2 separate regions of the Homo sapiens genome follow, and region 2 is linked to region 1. The links come from fine-mapping of genetic effects on gene expression. A gene starts in region 1. The other region holds a variant in brackets. All regions are shown on one strand. Distances are from middle to middle.

Region 1 (15,197 bases):
AGGTCAGGAGTTCAAGACCAGCCTGGCCAAGCATGGTGAAATCCTGTCTCTACTAAAAACACAAAAAAATTAGCCTGGCGCTGTGGTACACCCCTGTAGTCCCAGCTACTCGGGAGGATTGTTAGAACCTGGGAGGTGGAGGTTGCAGTGAGCCGAGATCGCACCACTGCATCCCAGCCTGGGCAACAAGAGCGAAACTCCATCTCAAAAAAGGAAAAAGAAAAGAAAAAAAACAAGTCACTGATGGTCTGAAAACTTGGTACATACAGATTTAGAACTGGGGAGGGGGCTGTTTACCAGCGTTAGCAACAAATTCAAATTTCTAGAAAGCACATTTGTAGGCTGGAATCGACCTCCAGGCTGCCAGTGTGTCACTTTCGGGAGGGGCTTTGGCCTCTGTGGGGGGCCTGGCTCCCTACTCGCGTTTCCCTGCTCATGCCTCTTACTTGTAGGGGTTGATGTTGCAGATGGTGACTGCAGGAAAATCCAGCTTCCGGAAGTGGACTTTGATGGAAACTGAGACAGTATAGAAGGAGAAGACGAGGAGGGCGCACTGCCAGAGGATGAGGGCCACGGCAGTCAGTGTGAACCCGATCCAGAGGAGGCGGCGCAGACGGCCGCGGGACACCACGATGCGGCGACAGCCATGGGTGTTGGTGTTGAGGCAGTACCACCGCATCAGCTCTTTAATGGTCGGCGCCTGAGGGCCCGTCACGGGCAGATTCTTCTTGATTTTGGCTTTGATCTTCTCTCCGGGTGCCATGGCGAGGATGGGACTTTGAGGACGGGACTCTGAGGACGGGCGTGCTGGAGGGGCAAAGAAGAGAAGCAGGTGAGCTGGCAGGCACTAGCCGGCTAGTGTGTCCCTGGAGACCACAGTCTGGGAAACACCAGTCCATGCGCCCTTAGAGACCTCCTTCCTCTGTTCCTCTGTGGCTTAGGCACTTTGCATTCTGAATCCTTGGCCCCTTTTCCACGGGACGTTTGTTTTTGGCCACCACAGCTGCCAGAGAAGCTGCCTACTTCTCTTACGGCCCCCAGGCCTAGCCGTGCGGGGGCTGGGTGAGGTGCAACCTGCGAAGCGCTGGCTGGACAGGCTGCAGGACCTTTCCCCGGGTTCCTGGGCAGGAACTCTGGAAGCAGCCCCATCAGCTCTCTTATCAGGCAGGGGTACCCGTGCCTTATCACCTCCAGTAGCCCGCCTTCCTCAAGGGCAGCATTCCTATCTCATTATGCCCCCTGGTTCCTAGCACAGTGTCTGGCACAGAGCAGTGCTCGGCAGATTGTAACTGACAGATGAAATCTGCCAAGAAAATTTCCCGGCAGCCACCTTAGATCATGTTCCTGGCTGCATTTTCCCCAGCCTTTTCTCTGAGGCTTTATTATAAGTGAAACGATTTCTCTTTTGTTTCTTCTCTTTACAGTCAAGCTCTTAATGTTTCTAGATCACCTGATGTAACAATAACCTGCAACTATTGGCCACTTAGTGTTTGCCAGGCATTGTGCCATATTTCCTTGATTCTAAGATACCATTAATTTAGAGAATGCCCTTGATTTAATAACAGCTTTGGGGGAGAGTACCAGTATTGGAAGGCAAATTATCACATTCATCAATGTGCACGATGCATCTCAACTATACAAACTTTACAATGAGAAATAATTTTAGAAATGAACTAATATACTACATAAAAACTCATTTCATGTTTATAATATATAGTCTCATTAGTCTCATAAGTAAATTTGTCTCTCTCTATAAATATACACATAGCCTACATATATTTCCTTTTGTGTTTCAATAATTCCATGAAGTAGGCATGCTATTATTATATCCATGTTACAGAGGAGAAAAATGGGCTCAGAGAGGTTGAATATCTTGTGTAAGATGATGCAGCTGGTTAGTGGAGGAGCTGGATGGAACCCTGCAGCCTTCACCGCTATGGCATACGCCTTTGAGGGGCCTGGTAGTACGCTGGGTGCAGGGAGTTAATTAACAATACCAAGAACTAAAGGTAGGAGGAAAGAGAAGGAACACAGCTATTTAATTTCCAAACTCTGAACAGTGCACATGACCACTTCCCAAGACTTGTGAGCACTAGTATTGGGGGTGGGGGATATATGAAAACTGTGTCGTCCTATGCCTTCTACAGTGACAAAGGCAAATTAGGACATATCCTAGGGCATACAGGGTGGTCCCCAGGACCAGAGAGGACCCATGTCTGTGACTTCGATGTGCCCCATCAAGATTTTTAGGCAGTATTCGGAACCTGCAGAGTTATGTCTTTTTTTCCCACCCTGAACCCATGAAATATGGGCTAAAATTGGAAGCTGGGGCAAAGCTAGGAGGCTTCCAAGCTTATGATGCTAGTGGGTTTAAGGCCTCAGATGGAAAGGAAATGGAGTGCTGGGCATGGAGGTGAGATGTCCAGAGCAGACAAACTGCTCTAAACCCTCCATAGATTGATATGATTTTGCTGGGATGAAGAACACCATCAAAATGATGCTAGTAGCCTCTGGGCAAGAGGAATATAATTTATTTTTTTATCACTTAAAATATTGCCTATCCTTACCTCCTCCCTCACTACAATCCAAAAAAATAAAAAATGAAATAAAGAAGAAGGAAAGAAAGAAAAAAATTAGCGAGAGTTTGTTTTTAAAATCTAGGTCCAGGTTCAATTGCTTGTCAAATAAAACTGCAGCCCTCCTCTGTGAATGTTCAACAGAAGCTGTGATTCTGGAAGCTCCTATCCCCAGCTCTCAGGGGTACCTCTGCCCCATCAGCCCCTTCCCCAGAACCGACCTTGACCCCAATGGATCAGTCGACAATGTCAGAGGAGCCCCCAAGTGAAGGAAGGGAACTGATCTTGCTCTTTGCAAAACAGATAAAATATTCATATAAATAATATTTCAACTTCAAAGCAAAACAAGACTGTAGCTACCATTAGATTATGCAGCCTGAGCCAATGTGATACCCTTGGTGGAAGAATTACTAGCTGATACCCAGCACTTACTCTTCTAAGTACTTTGCAGCTGTCACCTCATTTAATTTTCACGATAATCGTCTGAGGTAGGTATCACAACCACCTCCATTGTACAAATGAAACAGACGCTGACAGGTTAAGTAGCTTGCCCAAGGTCACACTAGAAAGTGGCTGAGCTGGGATTTGCACCTAGGAGTCCCTTTAACGACTAACTAGGCTGCTCTTCAATCATTAATAATAATAACAGCAGCAGGGAAAGCAGCAATAATGGCAGCTATCACTTATTGATCCCTTTCTGTACTCCCAGGCATCCCACTCAGTCCTTTTCACACACTACCTGATTTAATCCTCACTACAGTTATATGAGGTGCTATTACTTGGCCCATTTCACAGAGAAGGAAACTGAGGCACAGAGGTTAGGTAATTTGCCCAAGACCACACAGGTAGAAAGGATTTGAAGGATTCTTTAGAATTCCAGGGCCCTGGCTCATCGCAGCGGCTCCGTGCACCCCCTCCTCACCTACCACCGACTTTGCCTGTCCCCCATCCCACAGTGCAGGACCCCAAAGCTTGGAGAGGGATGAGAGATTTGCCCCAAGTCTAGCGTTGGGTTCGCTGGACCGGAGAGTTCCCGATCAGTGCCCGTCCCGAAGGGCGAGTCCTGTGCAGAAATCACTTGAACTCAACCTCAGGGCCCTGACCCGAGCTCCTGCCGAGCGACCCCGCAGCCCTGCCCTCCCTGCGCGGAGCGAGCGGGCGCTGTCCTGTGGCGGAAGCCACGTCTGCCCCGGGGGAGCGCCGGCTGAAGGCGCTGGAGCGAATCCAACCAGCCCACTTCAAGTGTTTGCTTCTTTCTGCACCAAGTCACCCCGGAGAAAGCATTCCAGAGGGTAGAAGGAACAGTAGCGGACAGGTCCACGCGACTCACCCCGGCAGGGAAGGGGGCTGAACAGGCGCTGGGCGGAGAAAAGAGGCCAGGTGTGGCCCGGGACCCCCAGACCCCCGGACTCTGAGTGGCTCTCGACTGGCTTCGTGCTCCGGGCCACGGCGTGGGTAGACCCGGGAGAGCTGGCCGCTACCGCCCGGGCAAGGTGTCCCAGCATCCCGGGCACCGGGAAGCCGCCACCGGCTGATGCTGGCTCGGCCACCCACCGCGCTGACGGCGTCCGACGCCCTGGCGCCCGGCATCCGCTCCAGTGCCCAGAACCCCCGAGCTGGTCCGACCCAACCCGGCTGAACTCACCTTTCGGTTCCAAAGGGTCCAAGGCTCGTGCGGGTGCGCTGCTCCTCTGCTCGCTCTCGGGCTAGCATCCCCTGGCAGCGCCACCGCGGGCTCTTGTGGGCCGGCCAGGCCCCGCCCCCTAGGGACCCGCCTCCCCAGGCCCCGCCCCCACCTGCCCAGGTGCTTTCCCCAGGCCGCCAGGCACCTGAGACCGCCCGGAGCGGGCCACGACTTCACAACGCCCCCTGGCGCCCCGAAGCCGCCCTGCGCCCCAGCCCGGCCGCGCTGCGTCTTCCTGGGCCACCGCGCAGTGCCTGCTGCCGCCCCGAGGCCGCCCTGCCATCCTGCATTCCCGCTGGGTCTCTGCGGCACTTACCCCAAGGCGCCTCAAAGCGCCTGCTGCCCCCTATTACTGCCCCGCGACTTCCTTCCACTCCCGTCCAGATGGCAGGTGCCTGCCCTAGCACCAGCAGTAATCCCACGCAGCCTCGCTCCTCGGACTCCCTCCAGACCTGCAGCTTCAGTGCCCACCAGCGTCCGGCTGTAGGCAGCAGGGGCTGTTCAGCCAGGCCACTCATCCTTTGACCTTTTCAGCTGCTTCTTTCTCTTTCTTTCGTTATTTCCTCCTTCCTTCTTCTTTCTTTTCCTCTTTCCTTCTTTTTTTTTTTTTTTGACGGAGTCTCGCTCTGTCGCCCAGTCTGGAGTGCAATGACGCTATCTCAGCTCACTACAACCTCCGCCTCCCGGGTTCAAGCAATTCTCCTGCCTCAGCCTCCCAAGTAGCTGGGGTTACAGGCGCGCGCCACCATGCCCGGATTAATTTTTGTGTTTTTAGTAGAGACGCGGTTTCACCATGTTGGCCAGGCTGGTCTCAAACTACTGACCTCAGGTGATCCACGCGTCTTGGCCTCCCAAAGTGCTGGGATTACAGGTGTGAGCCACCGCGCCTGGCCTGTCCTTCTTTCTCTTTCTCTCTTTCTTTCCTTTCTTTCCTCCTTCCTTCCTTGCCTGCCTGCCTGCCTTCCCGCCCGCCCACCTTCCTTCCTTCCTTCCTTCCTTCCTTCCTTCCTTCCTTCCTTCCTTCCTTCCTTTCTCTTTCTTGCTTGCTTGCCTTCCTTCCTTCCTTCCTCCCTCTTTCTTCTTTCTCTCTCTCCCTTCCTTCCTTCCTCCCTCCCTCCCTCCTTTTTCTTTCTTCCTTTCTTTCTTTCTTTCTTTCTTTTTCTTTCTTTCTTTCCTCTATTTCTCTCTTTCTTTTTTTAACAGGGTCTGCCTCTGTCACCTTGGCTGGAGTGCAGTGCTGCAATCATAGCTCACTGTAGCTGCCAACTACTGGGCTCAAGCGAGCCTCCCACTTCAGCGTCTCAAATAGCTGGAATTACAGAGGTAAGCCACCTTTCCTAGCTTCAGCTGCCTTTTTATAGGGACTCAGATAACTACAAGAAACGAGATTAGAAAACTGCAATTGGGAGGGACCATAGAGACACAGCCCCTTTGTGCCGGGGAGAAACTGAAGCCCAGAGAGAGGAAAGGATCTGTTCTTACCTAGAGCTTCTCAGATTTGAATGTGGTTACAATCACCTATGGATGTTGTTAAAATGCAGATTCTGACTCGATAGGGGTGGAGTGGGTCTTAAGAGTCCGAATTTCCAAATTCCTAGGAGATGCCTTGGTTGCTGGTCCAAGGGCGGTTTGCCCAGGTGGATGGAAACAGGTCCAGCATTATTGGAGAGAAATTTAAAGAAAATCCTCTAAAAAATCTCAGCTGCTTCTTCTAACAATATATGCTCATTGCAAAGAATTAAAACAATAAACTGTGCCCCCCCCTCCCCAAATAAGCATGGCTAACAGTTTGGTTATTATTTGGTGTGTGTGTATGTGTGTGTGTCCACACACACATATTAGTTTTATATATATACACATACATATATAATGGGATTTTGAAACACACACTGTTCAAATTCTATGTTTGTTTTGAATGACAATACACAGTTATATTCTCACTGCAAAATAAAGCCAGCTTTTTCTTCTTTTTGTCTTTTAAATTATTTATTTATTTATTTATTTTGAGACAGGGTCTTGCTCTGTCACCCAGGCTGGAATGTAGTGGCATGATCATGGCTTACTGCAGTCTCAACTTCCTGTGGCTCCAAGGATCCTCCCACCTCAGCCTCCCAAGTAGCTGGGACCCCAGGTGCATGCCACCGATACCCAACTAATTTTTTTTTTTTTTTTTTTTTGGTAGAGAAGGGGTTTCACCATGTTTGCAAGGCTGGTCTTGAACTCCCGAGTTCAAGGGATCTACCCATCTCAGCCTCCCAAAGTGCTGGCATTATAGGCATGGAATTAGGCTAGATTCAAGTTAAAATTTATATACAGTGAAACGCACAATTTTTTTGTTTGTTTGTTTTTGAGGCAAGGTTTTGCTCTGTCACCCAGGGTGGAATGCAGTGGTGTGATCATAGCTCACTGCAGCCTCCAACTCCTGGGCTCAAGCAATCCTCCTGCCTCAGATTACAAAATAGTAGCTAGGACTAGAGGTCTGTGCCACCATGCCTGGCTAATTTTTTATTTTTGTGGAGATGGAATTTCACTATGTTGCCCAGGCTGGTCTTGAACTCCTGGCCTCAAGAAATTTGCCTGCCTTGGCCTCTCAAAGTGTTATGATTGCAGGCATGAGCCACTGCACCTGGCCCAAAATGTACAAGTCAAGGAGTTTTGGTAAATGTGTACACTCCTATGACCAACACCATCTGATTCTTCAGTACAGAGTGGTATTGCCTCTAAACCACTCCTGTCATCATAAGACCATAGGCAACGTCCTCTCCTTCTTGAAGCATCAGTGTTCAGATTTATAAAATATACCTAGAATCTACTTCTCCCCACCTCTGGGGCCACCACCATGCTCTAATTGATCATTGTCTCTCACCCGAATCATTGCCATAGGCTCCTCACTAATCTTGCTAATTCTGCCCTCCACAGCCTCTTGTCAATAAGCCAGTCAAAGAGATTCTTATTGAATTAAGGTTAGATCATGCCATTTCTCTATTTAAACCCATTCAGTGGCTTCTTGCTTCATTTATAATGAAAGCCAAAATCCTTATGGTCATCTGCAAGGCCCTCCATCATCTGACCCTGTTGTCCCTCTGCCCTCGTCTCTTCCTACTCACACTCGCATATTCTGCTTCACCTTCACTGGCCTCCGTGCCATCCTTGCATATGACTATGACCGAACCTAGCCTTAGCAAAGTCATTTGGTTTCAGGCAACAGAAACAGACTCAAATTAGCTCAAGCAGAATCAATAAATTATTAAATGGATGCAGGCAGGGCTCCTTTACAGAATCCAAAGAAACACAGAGGGTCTCAGGAGAATGGGAACCAGGAAAGGTCTGGATCTCTCAGGAGGAGGATTTTGTGGTCTTTTTTTATTTTTATTTTTACTTGAGACAGGGTCTGGCTTTGTCACCCAGGCTGGAGTGCAGTGGTGCGATCTCGGCTCACTGCAACCTCCACCTCCTGGGCCCAAGTGATACTTCCCCCTCAGCCTCCAGAGTAGCTGGGAACATAGGCATGCACTGCCACACCCAGATACATTTTGTGGGTTTTGTAGAGATGGAGGTCTTTCTATATTGCCCAGGCTGGTTTCGAACTCCTGGGCTCAAGCAGTCCACCCGCATTGGCCTCTCAAAGTGCTGGGATTACAGGTGTAAGTCAGTGCGCCTGGCAGAGGATTTTGTGGGCTTTCTTGAATTTTCAAAGCCTGTCTTAGTCTCATGAGTCCTGAAGATAAATTTGATTGGCCACTGGCCTGCCAATGAGCTAGTTTCTTTGGCTCAGGTGTATTCATTCCTGGTCCAATCAGCTAACACTGTGAGGGTAGGAATGGGTAAAACAAATATGACTGAAGAGATTCACCACTACTGGTAAATGGGAAATTCTCAGATCATGTGGCTGTAAGTGAGGAAGAAACCTTAAAACAAGTGAACCAACATTTCCCTTTGTTTTCAAAAAAACACTTCTGGTCCACTTAGGAAAAAGCAATATAGATGAGACTTACATTGCCCCCTAAATACTAAGATTTTAGACTTGCTTGTCGAGAGCAATGGTGTAGAAGCCATTTGCTTGTTTTTCTGCCAATATCCATTCTTTTTATTCTAGAGACATCCCTGAATTTCCTTTGGAGAACCATTCAATCCTATCCACACCCCCCATCCTCATTCATGTGGTTCAACTTAGGTTGACCCCCATCTCTGGCTCTAGCAAATCAGCTTATCTTGTCACTCAGGTTATAGTCTTTTTTTTTTTTTTTGAGATGGAATCTCGCTTTGTCGTCCAGGCTGCAATGCAGTGGTGCTATCTCGGCTCACTGCAATCTCCGCCTCCTGGGTTCAAGTGATTCTCCTGCCTCAGCCTCCCAAGTAGCTGGGACTACATGTGCACACCACCACACCCGGATAATTTCTTTTTTTTCTTTTTTTTTTTTTTAGTAGAGACAGGGTTTCACCATGTTGGCCAGGCTGGTCTCAAACTCCTAACTTCAGGTGATCCACCCACTTTGGCCTCCTAAATTGCTGGAATTACAGGCATGAGCCACCATGCCTGGCCTTTAGGTTACAGTCTTTTGCTCAGGAGTGGGCACAGACAGAAATTCAATCCAATGAGAGTCTGAGAGTCACACCCACCCAAGACTTTGTCTAGAATATTGCAAAGGAGGATGTCTCTTTTTACTGGGACTTCTAGCAGAAAGGACTGTGTGATCCAAGGGCTGTGGAAAGTATCACATAGGGCCTTAGAGTGAAACCAACACAAAGAAAAGCAGAGCCCAGTGATGGAGAGGGTTCCAGCAAGTCTCTGGACCCAGCACTGCCTACAGCTGGGTCTACCTTCTGGAATTCTCAGTCATATGAGCCAATAAACTTGCTATTGTGTTTAGGACATTTTGAGTTGTTTATCTCACTCAAAACCAAAAAAGTCCCAACTAATATAGAGAATAAAAATCCTATCTTCCCACTTGGATGTGGTGATGTCTTCTTCTGTTTCTTAAAGTGAGTGTATTTCATATCTAGTCCCAGATGAATATCTACAAATCTGGGCAACATTTTTATATGCCAAATGACAACAGGGAGAGCCCTGAGCTATTTAAAGGGATAACAGGTAATTAGAACTCTGACAGGGAAATAGACTCCCCTTGATCCTAGCTCTCTCTCTCTTTTTTTTTTTTTAGATGTTGTCTCTGTCACCCAGGCTGGAGTGCAGTGGCGTGATCTCAGTTCACTGCAATCTCTGCCTCTTGGGTTCAAGTAATTATCGTGCTTCAGCCTCCTGAGTAGCTGGGATTATAGGCATGCTCCAACATGTCAGGCTATTTCTTTTGTATTTTTAGTAGAGACGGGGTTTCATTGTGTTGGCTAGGCTGGTCTCGAACTCCTGACTTCAAGTGATCCACCTACTTCAGCCTCCCAAAGTGCTGGGACTACAGGTGTGAGTCACCGCGCCCAACCAGCTATCTCAATAAGACCCAAAGTTTACCAAATTATCTTCATAGGACCTAAGGCTAATATGAGTCAGGTGTGGGGTCAAAGGGACTCACATTTCCAGGATCACATTTATATTATGTAGTCGGATGGGAGGGTTCTAAGAAGCAATCAACAAGGTCTTCCTTGTTGAAGACAAGGAAAGTCTTTCTTGCTGGGCTGATGAGGGTGGTGGCATGGTAGAAGACCATTCTTATTTATTAATTGGACTCTAATTCAATGACCTGGATACTATTTCTGTGTATAGTCTTAGCTTAAGCCAATAGCATCAGTTGTTGAAATAGAGAAATATAAGCTTGGTTACATTAATTTTCTAGGACCCTTTTTCCCCAAAGGGTACACATATGTTTCTGGCAAAAGTTAGTACCATTTTTCTAGTGTAAGAGACTTTTTTTTTTTTTGAGACAGGGTTTCACTGCTGCCACCCAGGCTGGAGCGCAGTGGCACAGTGTCGACTCACTGCAGCCTCCACCCACTGGGTTCAAGCTATTCTCCTGCCTCAGCCTCCCAAGTAGCTGGGACTACAGGCACATGCCACTGTGCCTGGCTAACTTTTGTATTTTTTGTAGAGATGGGATTTTGCCATGTTGCCCAGACTGGTCTCGAACTCCTGAGCTCAAGTGATCCGCCTGCCTTGGCCTTTCAGAGTGAAAAAACATTCTTTTACTAATTAGACTTTTTTATGGGTCAAGAGAATGCACAGATTACCCATGGTGATGGGGGCTTATTGAAAGCACAACTTCCCAGCTGTGTCGGAGGGGCTTTTATTGCCCTATACCCCATCGATTTGGCCCTTGTAAATTCCACATTTTATCATGCATCACTCAAAACATTCTGCATCCAGCACTTATTTCTAATTCAGGTAAAACTCTATATATTGCAGATATCAGAATCAAACAACCGTGAACTAGCTTAGGCTAAAGAATGAAACAAATTAGCTCATGTATAAGGGAGTCTGGCTTCAGGCTCAGCTTACACTTGAATTCAAAAGATGTCAACAGGTCCTGGTTTTTCTGCCTTTGAGTCTTGGTTCTAATTCATCAGTGTTCACACCATTCTCTGTCCAGTGTTGTTGCAAGATGGCTGCACTAGCTCTAGCTTCTACATATACATAATGCTGAGTCCAGAAGGACTGATAGCTTAAGCACATATTGTAGGACAATCTTGATTGAGCTTTATTGCCTTGTTTGAGGCATGTTTCAACTTCTTTTTTTACTTATTAGAGATGAGGTCTTATTCTGTTGCCCAGGCTGGAGGGCAGTTGTGTAATCATAGTTCACTGCAGCCTTGAATTTCTGGGCTTAAGCCTTCTGAGTAGCTGGGATTAAAGGTGCAAGTCACCATGCCTGGCTGTTTCAACTTCCAGTTGAACACCATGATTAGAAGAATGGGATGCATTGATTGGCTTAGGCTTGGATTATATGCTCTGTCTCTGGGTAGATTCAGCTTCACTCAAAACACAAGGGCTGAGAATGGGGAAGAAGTGGTTCTTTCCAAGCAAAATCAGAATAAATTCTGGGTTGCAAAAACATCTCATATTGCATAATTTCTCTACTGTTGCCTTCTTTGGCACTTGCAACTGATAATTGTCTCAGTGAAACACTCTCTTCTCTTGGCTTCTCCAATGCATTGCTTTCCCTGAAATTCTATTTATACTCCTTTGGAACATTTGTTTTTGTTTTTGTTTTGAGACAGAATCTCACTCTGTCACCCAGGGTGGAGTGCAGTGGTGCGATCTCAGCTCACCTCCCAGGTTCAAGTGATTCTCCTGCCTCAACCTCCTGAGTAGGTGGGATTACAGTCATGTGCCACCACGCCCGGCTAATTTTTTTGTATATATTTTAGTAGAGACGGGGTTTCACTATGTTTGTCGGGCTGGTCTCGAACTCCTGACCTCGTGATCCGCCCACCTCGGCCTCCCAAAGTGCTGCTCCCAAAGGGCTGCGTGAGCCACCACGCCCAGCGTTGGAACGTTTTTGCAATACCTCTGTAGAGTTTCTGGTCCTTAGAGGATCACTGCTGGGGTTCAGGGTCTCAGGAGGCTAGTCACAAGAGATAGCAGGAGATCTCAAAACTTCCATAGAGTCAGAGGAGATATAAAGATATATAAAGTGGCTTAGAAAACTTGGTTAAGCTGCTACTAAGGCTTAGGCATCTGTGGCACAGGGTTGGCTAAATGTGGGATCCAGAGGAGATAAGTAATCTTGCTCCCAAGTTTGACTCTTTCCAGGATTCCTACAAATCTAGAATGATGTCCCTCAGTTCTTGTGGATGTTATCTTGCCCCACCAAGATGGGATTAATGCTCTCTCTTCATGCATTCTTAATGACTTAGTCTTTTGGGGCAACCTACTGTCTTTGACCTTTGGGGAGTAGGAACCAGGGTCCTCAGATTCAGTTGTGTGGATTTCAATTTTTTTGATGCTGCTTCTCTTGAGAGAAGCTGGCTTTAGATATCAGCACTGCGGACAGCAGCCATAGTTTCTCCTTTTATGCAGGAGGTCTCCAGTGGAAGCCTCATCGCCCATGACATGCAATTCACAATTTTGGAATGAATAGATGAAGGAGTGAAAGGGGCATTCTCCAGCCAGTCTATTCAGTCTGTGTGGATGAGAGATATCATGGTCAGATTACCTTTAGAACTGGACATGTACAATCAATTCTTGCTATTTGGGCTAGCTATGTTCTATAAAGCTGCCACAAACACTGAATTAGTGAATACTGAACCATTGCTTCTAGAAGAAATATAGAGTTCGGTTCCCGAGAGCCTCTGGTCACAACGTTGTCATTAACTGATCGATACGTAACTTTGTTTTATGTGTGTTCTTGTTTAAAGTCACCTTGTTTAATATATAGTTGATTCAATAACATTGAAATAATGGCCAACAGCACTATATAACTCATGCCTGAATAAAGCTTACCTAACACATATATTTTTTCAGTAAGGCACATACAGCCTTCCTGTGCTTAGGAATATTAGATAGCACTTCAGCGCTAGGGAGCAAACTCACCAACAAAACAAAAATGTGAAAATTGTGGCAGCCTATATAGGCTGCAAAAAAGGACATGAGTTTACAGTATAAGAGCTGAAACAAGAGGGTAGAGTGTTGCCTTATTTGACCTCAGCTGGGAACAAGCACAGTGGGTGACTAAAATTTTTGCTGCTTGGCACATGTCCCTAAAGGCATTGCAAGTATTGATTTTAGGGTTACAAATAAATTCTAGTGAAATATGAAATCCATGAATAATGAGAATTGACTGGGTTTTTTTTTAGTTTTCTTTAAGCCCGTGGGTTTGTTCTTCATCTTTTGGATTTTTCTCCAAGTCTCAGAACACAAAAGATACTCAGAGGTTATGGAAGATGATGTCCTTACAATGGCCCATAAGGCCCTACATGATTTCATTCACTCTCCCTTTTCTTGAGTCTGAGAGTGTAGAGTTAGGTTATTGATTTGAGATCTTTCTTCTTTTTTAATGTAGGTGTTCACAGCTGTAAATTTCTCCCTAATAACTGCTTAAGCTACATCCTCTAATTTTTATATGTTGTGTCATTTTTACTCACCTCAAAATATTTTCTAATTTCTCTGTTGGTTTATTTTTTAATTTTTTAATTTTTTTTTTTTTGAGACAGAGTCTTGCACTGTCACCCAGGCTGGAGTGCAATGATGCAATCTCTGTTCACTGCAACTTCCATCTCCCAGGTTCAAGCAATTCTACCTCAGCCTCCCAAGTAGCTGGGATTACAGGCTTCTGCCAACACGCTCTACTGATTTTTTGTATTTTTAGTAGAGATGGGATTTCACTATGTTGGCCAGGCTGGTCTTGAACTCCTGACCTCATGATCTGCCCTCCTCAGCCTCCCAAAGTGCTGGGATTACAGGCATGAGCCACCATGCCCAGCCGGTGGTTTCTTTTTTGATCCAATATTTATTTGGGAGTGTCTTAATTGTCACATATTTGTGAATTTCCCAAATTTCTTTCTGTCACTGATTTACAATTCCACTAAATTGTGCTTAGAGTACAACGGCCCCCAAGTGTAGTGCGAAGTGCTATCTAGTATTCCTAAGCACAGCAAGACTGTATGTGCCTTACTGAGAAAGGCATATGTTAGACAGGCTTTATTAAGGCATGAATTATAGTAATGTTGGCCATGATGTCAATGTTATTGCATCAACTACATATTAAATAAGGTGACTTTAAACAGAAACACACATAAAGCAAAGTTACATATTGATCAGTTGATGAAAATGTTGTGACCAGAGGCTCTCGGAAACCTAACTCTGTATTTTGTCTAGAAGCAATGGTTGACCTTCTCCCCATTTTAACCTGAGCTGCCTAATGCACAGTGGGGCTGGGGAGGGGCTGGGGGAAGCAGGGCTGAATCTTGGATCCTGGGGAAAGTTAAAGATGCAGAAGTGATGTCAGCTCTCTGTAGCGCAGTTCCCTTCCTGGTCCTTGCCACACAGCACCTTCTACAGAGACTAGCTCTGTGGGTGGCGGGGGCCCCCACAGGCCCCACTGCTTCCCCTCCCCGCTGCCCGTGCTGCTTCTCTGTGCCTGCTGTTGGAGCTCTGATGAAGGAGTAGCTGGCTGCCTTGTGAGCTGGAGGGGGCTGGGGCATCTGCCTGGGTCTTTGCGGAGAGCTGCTTATGGGTGTGGTCTGTCCAGGCATGTTGTTTCAAAGGCGGTGGACGTGAGCAAAAGCATCCTCACAGTTGATCAATAACTTTTCTTGTTTTTAAACCATCATGTCTTCATTTTACATTGGAATAAAGCGAGTTTTTGAAACCTGCCAAAAAAAAAAAAAAAAAAAAGAAGAAGAAAGAATGGTTCAGTATTCACTAAGTCAGTGTTTGTGGCAACTTTATAGAACATAGCTATCCACAACAGCAAGAATAGGCCAGGCGTGGTGGCTCATGCCAGTAATCCCAGAACTTTGGGAGGCTGAGACAGGCAGATCACCTGAGGTCAGGAGTGCGAGACCAGCTTGACCAATATGGTGAAACCCTACCTCTACTAAAACTACAAAAATTAACCTGGCATGGTGGTGAGTGCCTGTAGTCCCAGCTACTTGGGAGCCTGAGGCAGGAGAATCGCTTGAACCCAGGAGGCAGAGGTTGCTGTGAGCCGAGATGGTGTCACTGCACTCCAGCCTGGGTGACAGAGCTAGACTCTATCTCAAAAAAAAAAAAAAAGAAAAAAATTGTGCATGTCCGGTTCTAAAGGTAATCTGACCATGATATCACTCATCTATACACACTGAATAGGCTGGCTGGACAATGTCCCTTTCACTCCTTCATCCTCCTTACTGTATTCATTTCAACATTGTGAATGGCATTTCATGGGAGATGGGCATCCCATTAGAGACCTCTGGCACTGCATGATTTCAATCTTTTAAATGTACTTGGTTGGGCTTGTTTTGTGGCCTGTCATATGGTCTATCCTGGAGCCTTACATGATTTAGTA
Region 2 (8,000 bases), 180 kb before region 1:
CCAGGAGTAGTGGTGAGTGTCTGTAGTCCCAGCTACTTGGGAGGCTGATGTGGATTGATCACCTGAGCCTGGGGAGGTTGAGGCTGTAGTGAGCTGTGATTGCACCACTGTACTCCTGCCTGGGCAACAGAGTGAGACTCTGTATCAAAAAAACAATAATAATTTGTAAAAAATTAAAAATAAAAACAGGAAGGAATGAGAGTAAGTACATCAAATAATGCACACACATAAAACGTCACCTGCCATGCAGTATTGTCTTTGAAGCCTTATGCTCCACAGCAAACATTCACTGAGTGACTTTTATGGGCCAGGCCTGTGCTGAATCTTTCTGTATTCGTGATCTCATTTAATTCTCAAAATAACCCCACAAGGGCAGGTGTTATTTTCCCGTGTTTTCAGATAAGAAAGCCATTTCCTGTATCTTTTGTCTCAGCTAGTTGACTTGCAGAATGACTTGGGTCCAGGACAGGCTGTGAAATGGGATATGGGGGCCGACCCAAGCTCTGCCACTGTCAACAGATTTGAGCTGCTTACTCAACCTCTGAGCTTGGGTTTCCTCAACGGTGCAAGGGGAAGCAGGAAGAAACCACATTTTTCCACCCAATAAATGTTTGTTGAGGTGGGTGCTAGGCTAGGGACACTGAGCAAAACAAGACAGGGCTGCCTTTTGCAGCTTCCAGTGTGGCAGAGGACAGAGAGTGGAATCCTATCAACCCCCCTCTCCTTCCAAGATGTGACTTCTTTCTTTTTTCTTTCTTTCTTTCTTTCTTTCTTTCTTTCTCTTTCTTTCTTTCTTTCTTTCTTTCTTTCTCTTTCCTTCTTTCTCTTTCCTTCTCTCTTTCTCTCTTTTTCTTTTCTTTCTTTCTTTTTCTTTCTTTTCTTCTTTTTCTTTCTCTCTTTTCTTTCTCTTTCTCCTTCTCTTTCTTTCTTTCTTCCTTCCTTTCTTTCTCTTTCTTTCTCTCTTTTCTTTCCTTTTCCTTCCTTCCTCCCTTCTTCCCTTTCTCTCTTTCTCTCTTTTCTTTTCCTCCCTTCCTCCCTTTTTCTCTCTTTCTCTCTTTTTCTCTCTTTCTCTCTTTCTTGACAAAGTCTTGCTCTGTTGCCCAGGCTGGAGTGCAATGGCGTGATATTGGTTCACTGTAACCTCTGCCTCCTGGATTCAAGCAATTCTCCTGCCTCAGCCTCCTGAGTAGCTGGGATTACAGGCAGGCACCATCACGCCCAACTATTTTTTTTTTTGTTTTTGAGATGGAGTTTTGCTCTTTCACCCCAGGCTGGAGTGAAGTGGTGCCATCTCAGCTCACTGCAACCTCTGCCCTCTGTGTTCAAGCGATTCTCCTGCCTCAGCCTCCCGAGTAGCTGGGATTATAGGTGCCTGCCACCACAACCAGCTAATTTTTGTATTTTCAGTAGATATGGGGTTTCACCATGTTGGCCAGGCTGGTCTCGAACTCCTGACCTCAGGCAATCCACCCACCTCAGCCTCCCAAAGTGCTAGGATTACAGGCGTGAGCCACCATGCCTGGCCTAATTTTTGTATTTTTAGTAGAGATGGTGTTTCACTATGTTGGCCAGGCTGGTCTTGAACTCCTGACCTCAGGTGATCTCCCACCTCAGCCTCCCAAAGTGCTGAGATTACATGTGTGAGCCACCACGCCAGGCTCCAAGATGTGACTTTAGTCTGTCCACCTGTCTCCACCTCAGACGCTCCCACCCTGGCCCAAGTCACCAGCATCTCATGTCTGGATTCTTGCTGGAGCCTCTGCCTCTGTTCATCCTTAAAGTCTTCCTTCTGCACAGCAGTCAGGGTGATTGTTTAAATTTGTGAGTCAGAGCACGGTACTCCCTTTCTGAGAACCCTCCAAAGGCTTCTTGTCACTCACAGAATAAAGTGCAAAGTCCCTATGCTGGCCTTCTATGTCTCATTCCCTACACTCCAGCGACACTCTAGATGTTTCCAAGCTCAAGGCTTTTGCCTCTGTTGTCCTTTGTGCCTGGAATATTCTCTAACCAGCTCTTCAGATACTGGCTTCTCCCCATCCTTCAGCTTTTATCTGCTCTGAGGCCTCCCTGAACCCCTATGCAAAGTGATGGACTAGAACTATTAGTTAATAGTACTTTATTACTAATAGTAATAGAATTTTCTACCTAGTTACTCTAGATCTTTTCCACCAGTTTATTTATATTTATTTATTTATTTATTTTGAGATGGAGTTTCACTCTTGTTGCCCAGGCTGGAGTGTAGTGGCATGATCTCAGCTCACTACAGCCTCTGCCTCCCCGTTCAAGTGATTCTCCTGCCTCAGCCTCCTGAGTAGCTGGGATTACAGGTATGCGCCACCACGCCTGGCTAATTTTTGTATTATTAGTAGAGACAGGGTTTCACCATGTTAGTCAGGCTGGTCTTGAACTCCTGACCTCAGGTGATCCACCTGCCTTGGCCTCCCAAAGTGCTAGGATTACAGGGTGAGTCACTGCACCTGGCCCTTCAACCAGTTGATTATCTTCTTTATCAGATACATCAGAATCTGAAATCAGCTTCCTTTTTTTTTTTGGTAGAGACAGGGTGTCACTCTGTTGCCCAGGCTGGAGTGCAATGGCGTGATCATAGCTTACTGCAGCCTCAAACTCCTGGCCTTAAGATATTCTCCTGCCTCAGCCTCCTGAGTAGCTGGGACTACAGGCATGTGCCACCACACCCAGCTAATTTGTAAAATTTTTTGTGGAGATGGGGTCTTGCTATGTTGCCCAGGCTGGTCTTGAACTCCTGGCCTCAAGTGATCTTCTGGCCTCAGCCTCCCTAAATGCTGGGATTATAGGCATCCACCACTGTGCCTGGCCTGAAATTATCTTCTTGATTTAATTGCTCACTTAGCTGTCTCCTGCTTAGAACATAAGCCCGGGGAGGGAGCATGACCTTGTCTGTCTGGAAGGAGAAGAGCTCAGAGGTCAAGAGCACAGGCCACAGAGCCAGCCTGCTTGATTTCAATTCTGGCTGTGTCCCTTAGCAGCTGGTGAGCTTTGGGATGGTTACATCACGTCTTCGTGCCTCACTTTCCCCATTTGTAACACCAGATAATACTACCTACATGACTGCGGCAAGGGGTGGATGCCTAGCATACTGTAATACTCAAAAAATCTTGGCTGCTACTGTTCACAGCTCCATGCCCAGGGTCTGGTACAGAGCACACAGACACTCAGTAAATATTTGATGAATAAATTACAATAGGCGATAAGAGCATCGACAGAGATAAGTATGGAGAAGTGACACCCAAGTCCCAGTGGAGAGTGGGGAGCGAGTCAGGGAAGGTTTCCTGGAGGAGGGGAGGCCTGAGCTGAGACTTTATGAACAAGTAAGCGATGGCTAAGTCTACAGGGTAGGGAGGAGAAAGGGCTCACCAGGCAGGGACACAACACAGGCAAAGCCCCAGAGGGAAGAAATAGCTCTGGGCGGGCACCATGGAGTCTATAAACTGTGGGATCAGGGCTGTGGCCACAGGAAAAGAACAGAGCAGAGCAAACCAGCTCAATCCAGGCCCTGCTCTTGAAGGAGAGACCTCGCCCCAGGGCATGGGGACACAGTGTTCCCAAGGAACTGTCTTGGTCAGATGCAGCCCAGGAGCAGGAGGCTGCATGGGGTGTGGCCAGGTCCCCTCCTGCCCGCGCCATGCTCTTGGTCTCCAC[G/A]TGCGTGCCAACTATTTGCTTGTTGATAATACTCTTCACCCAGAGAGGCTGCTCCCAGGACTGGCTGCCTCTGATTCCAGAGCCAGGTGTTTCCCTACAGAAATCTCTGCTGGGCTGGGAGCCAGGCATGCAGACAGAGACCAGTGAGCCTCCAGAAAAGACTGGGAAATAGAGCATCCTAGCAGGAAGCAGTATAACCACTGTTGTGTGGTCAGAGGTCAGGAAAGACTTTCCAGGGCAGAAACTAGTTGGATAATCCCTGAAACAACAACAACCATAGTAATAATAATGCTTATATATGCCCAGATCTTGGTTTCTTTATTTTTAAATTTTATTTAACTTTATTTTTTTTTTTTTTGAGATTGCTCAGGCTGGAGTGCAGTGGCATGATCTTGGCTCTATACAACCTCTGCCTCCCAGGTTCAAGTGACTCTCCTGCCTCAGCCTCCCTAGTAGCTGGGATTACAGGTGCATGCCAACACACCCGGCTAATTTTTGTATTTTTAGTAGAGATGGGGTTTTGCCATGTTGGCCAGACCGGTGTCAAACTCCTGGGCTTAGGCAATCCTTCCACCTCGGCCTCCCAAAGTGCTGGGATTACATACATAAGCCACCATGCTTGGCCCAGATCTTGGTTTCTAAATACCATTCTTCAATTTAAAAAACCAGAGCTTGGGCAAGTCTTGTTGGCTCTCTCCTGTAATCCCAGCACTTTAGGGGGCTGAAGTGGGAAGATTGCTTGAGCCAGGAGTTTGAGACCAGCTTGGGCAACATAGGGAGACCCCATCTCTACAAAATAAAAAAATTAATCGGGCACGCGATTGTGTCACTGCACTCCAGTATGGACAACAGAGTGAGATCCCATCTCAAAAAAAACAAAAACAAAAACAAACAAACAAACAAAACAACCAAAAAACCAAACAGAGCTCTTTAGAGAAATGGCTGATTCTAGGGCGGGGGCATCCTGTAGTGCCAGAAAGTAGGCAAAAGTTAAAAAACCCACCCAGGTGAGGACATATCAAAGGCACACAGGTGCTAACTGACAGAGTGGCCAAAGCTAGAAGAATTTAAGCAAGAGAATAGATAACAAGGAATTGGATTACAACCTAAATCTACAGGAGTCCATACTGTGTCAATAAATGATGGAATAAATAAATAAATGGAGGAGATGAGACAAATCTTCCTTTACAGAAGAATTCCAAATAATATATATTCTTCTCTCTAGGAGGGGTGGAGCTCAATGCTCCTTTCCCACTGGCCACTCCCTTCCCCTTCCCCTGAGCGTAGTCTGAATTTAGTGACTCCTTTCCAAAGTACAGAGCAAAGGCCAGCACAGTGGCTCACATCTGTAATCCTAGTACTTTTGGAGGCTGAGGAGGGAGGATCACTTGAGTCCAGGAGTTGGAGGCTGTGGTTTTTCTGTAAATCTAAAACTATTCCTCGATAAAAAGTCTCTCTAGGCCAGGCGCAGTGGCTCATGCCTGTAATCCCAGCACTTTGGGAGGCTATGGCAGCAGATAACCTGAGGTCAGAAGTTTGAGACCAGCCTGGCAAACATGGTGAAACCCTGTCTCTACTAAAAATACAAAATTTACGCTGGGCACAGTGGCTCATGCCTGTAATCCCAGCACTTTGGAAGGCTGAGGCGGGTGGATCATGAGGTCAGGAGATCAAGACCATCCTGGCTAACACAGTGAAACCCTGTCTCTACTAAAAATACAAAAAATTAGCCGGTTGTGGTGGCGGCTGCCTGTAGTCCCAGCTACTCGGGAGGCTGAGGCAGGAGAATGGTATGAACCCGGGAGGCGGAGCTTGTGGTGAGCCGAGATAGTGCCACTGTACTCCAGCCTGGGCGACAGAGTGAGACTCTGTCTCAAAAAAACAAAACAAAACAAAACCAAAAACCAAAAACCAAAAACCAAAAATTAGCCAGGTGTGGTGGTGCATGCCTGTCATCCCAGCTACTCGGGGGGCTGAGACACGATAATCACTTGAACCCGGGAGGCAGAGGTTGCAGTGAGTGGAGATTATGCCATTGTATTCCAGCCTGGGGGCAAGAACAAAACTCCGTCTCAAAAAAAAAAAAAAAAAAAAAACCACCACCACCACCAACAACAAAGTCTCTCTCTCTATATTTTACTCTCACTCTGTCACCCAGGCTGGAATGCTGGAATGCAGTGGTGTGATCTTGGTTCACTGCAGCCTCAAACTCCGAGGCTCAAGTGATCCTTCCCCCTCAGCCTCCAGAGTAGCTGAGTCTACAGGTGTGTACCACCACGCCGGGCTAATTTTGTTATTTTAAAATTGTTTTTTGTAGAGATGGGGGGTCTCACTATGTTGCTCAGGTTGGTCTTAAACTCCTGGCCTCAAGCGATTCTCCCTCCTTGGCCTCCCAAAGTGCTGGGATTAAGTGAGCCACTGCACCTGGCCAAAAGCCTTTTTATTTATTTATTTATTTGTTTATTTATTTATTTATTTATTTATTTTTTTGAGATGGAGTCTCGCTCTCTCTCCCAGGCTGGAGTGCAGTGGCATGATCTCAGCTCACTGCAACCTCTGCCTCCTGGGTTCAGCCTCCTACCTCAGCCTCCCGAGTAGCTGGGATTATAGGCGTGAGCCACTGCACCCAGCTAATTTTTGTATTTTTAGTAGAGATGGGGTTTCACTATGTTTGCCAGGCTGGTCTCAAACTCCTGACCTCAGGTGATCTGCCTGCCTCGGCTTCCCAAAGTGCTGGGATTATAGGCGTGAGCCACCATGCCCGGCCCAAAAGCCTTTTTAAAAAAATGCTCCTATAATGTTTACTATGTGCCAGGCATTGCACCAGGTACTTTGCATATGTTCTCATTTAATCCCCCAATAATGCTATGTGGTTATTTCACTGTCCCCACTTTCCAGGTGAGGAAACTGAGGCACAGAAAGGCTAAGTAGCATGCCCAGTCACATACTGAGCTGACATTCAAGTCCAGGCAGTTTGGTGTTGGGGTCCACATGCGGCTCACATTTTCCTAATTCTGCAGCTGCTGCTTCTAGAGTGTTTGTCATGTTAGGAGGGGGACAGGATGGAGTCAGAGAGAGAGGGAGGAAGCAGGGGCCACAGTGTCTGTGGCCCAGCACCGGGAGAGCAGAGAGGCACATTCCCACAGCTGTGTCCAAGGCTGACTCAGGAAGGCAGATGACCAGTCAACTGTGGGAGTGAGGAAGAGCTCAGAGAGCAGTTGGCTGAGATCTCTATGCTAAGGTGCCTGGATGGTACCTTTCACTGGGACCTGCCGAGGGCTGGGGAAATAGGCTTGGGAGAGGTGGGTAGGGAGGGAAGATGACGATCACCCTTTCTGATGAGGCAATAGAGTGATGCGGGGTGGGCCTGGCCCAGACTGCTAGCTCTGCCACTCACCAACTGTGTGACTTCAGAGATGTTACTTAACCTCTCTGGGCAGGTTACAGCAACTATAAAATGATGGGGAAGGCTGGGCGCGGTGGCTCATGCCTGTAATTCCAGCACTTTGGGAGGCTGAGGTGGGAGGATCACTCGAGGCCAGGAGTTTGAGACCAGCCTGGGCAACAGAGTGATACCCTGTCTCTTAAAAAAATAAAATAAGGGGAAAATAACAGCTCCTTTCTCATGACTTTGTTGCCAGAGTGAAAGCAATTTTAACACACAAAGTGCTTAGAATAGTGCCTGACACCTACAGGGACGAGAAAGGCCCAGTAAATGTTGGCATAATTATTGAATTTGCATTCCTTGTCAAATTGGGGTTTTTGTTTTTGTTGCTGTTTTTTAAGAGAGTCTCCCCCTGTCGCCCAGGCGGGAGTGCAGTGGCACAACCTCGGCTCACTGCAACCTCTGCCTTCCGGGTTCAAGTGATTCTCGTGCCTCGGTCACCTGAGTAGCCGGGATTACAGGCATGCGCCACCACACCTGGCTAATTTTTGTATATTTAGTAGAGATGGGGTTTTGCCTTGTTGTCCAGGCTGGTCTCGAACCCCTGGTCTCAAGCGATCTGCCAGCTTCGGCCTCCCAAAGTGCTGGGATTATAGGCATGAGCCACTGAGCCCAGCCTAAAATGTGGGTTATAAAACTATTATAAAAGTAATAGTTATAACTATTATTTATTAAGCCCAGTAGTAGGGTCAGTTACTCATGCATATTAATTCACTTAATATTCAAAGTAACCATGTAGGGTAGGTATTGTTCTCTCCCCTATTTTACAGAGGAGGGAAACTGAGGCACAGCAAGGCTAAGAAACTTGTTCAAGGTCACACAGCTTGTAAGATGGAGCCAGGATTTGAGTCTAGGTGGTCTAACCCCAGACCCC

What was found. PIP is the estimated chance that this variant, and not a neighbour inherited with it, causes the effect.
Region 2: its variant is the best candidate, but not a certain one, in a credible set for the expression of SCNN1G in lung (TOPMed, PIP 0.87).

What each region holds. Positions count from the first base shown.
Region 1 is chr16:23,171,838-23,187,034 of GRCh38, reverse strand. It overlaps SCNN1G (sodium channel epithelial 1 subunit gamma), which reads right to left and starts at 4,290. Exons shown (of 13, transcript NM_001039.4): 1 at 4,222-4,290; 2 at 447-807. The coding sequence starts at 763. RefSeq lists enhancers at 282-781, 782-1,283, 14,306-14,807 and a silencer at 4,319-4,568.
Region 2 is chr16:23,358,369-23,366,368 of GRCh38, reverse strand. The region is part of intron 4 of SCNN1B (sodium channel epithelial 1 subunit beta); the gene reads right to left. Among named protein-coding and RNA genes, the nearest start is that of SCNN1B, 60 kb to the right of the region's middle. RefSeq lists an enhancer at 484-543 and a silencer at 407-701. The variant G/A (reference allele first, on the strand shown) is at 3,682.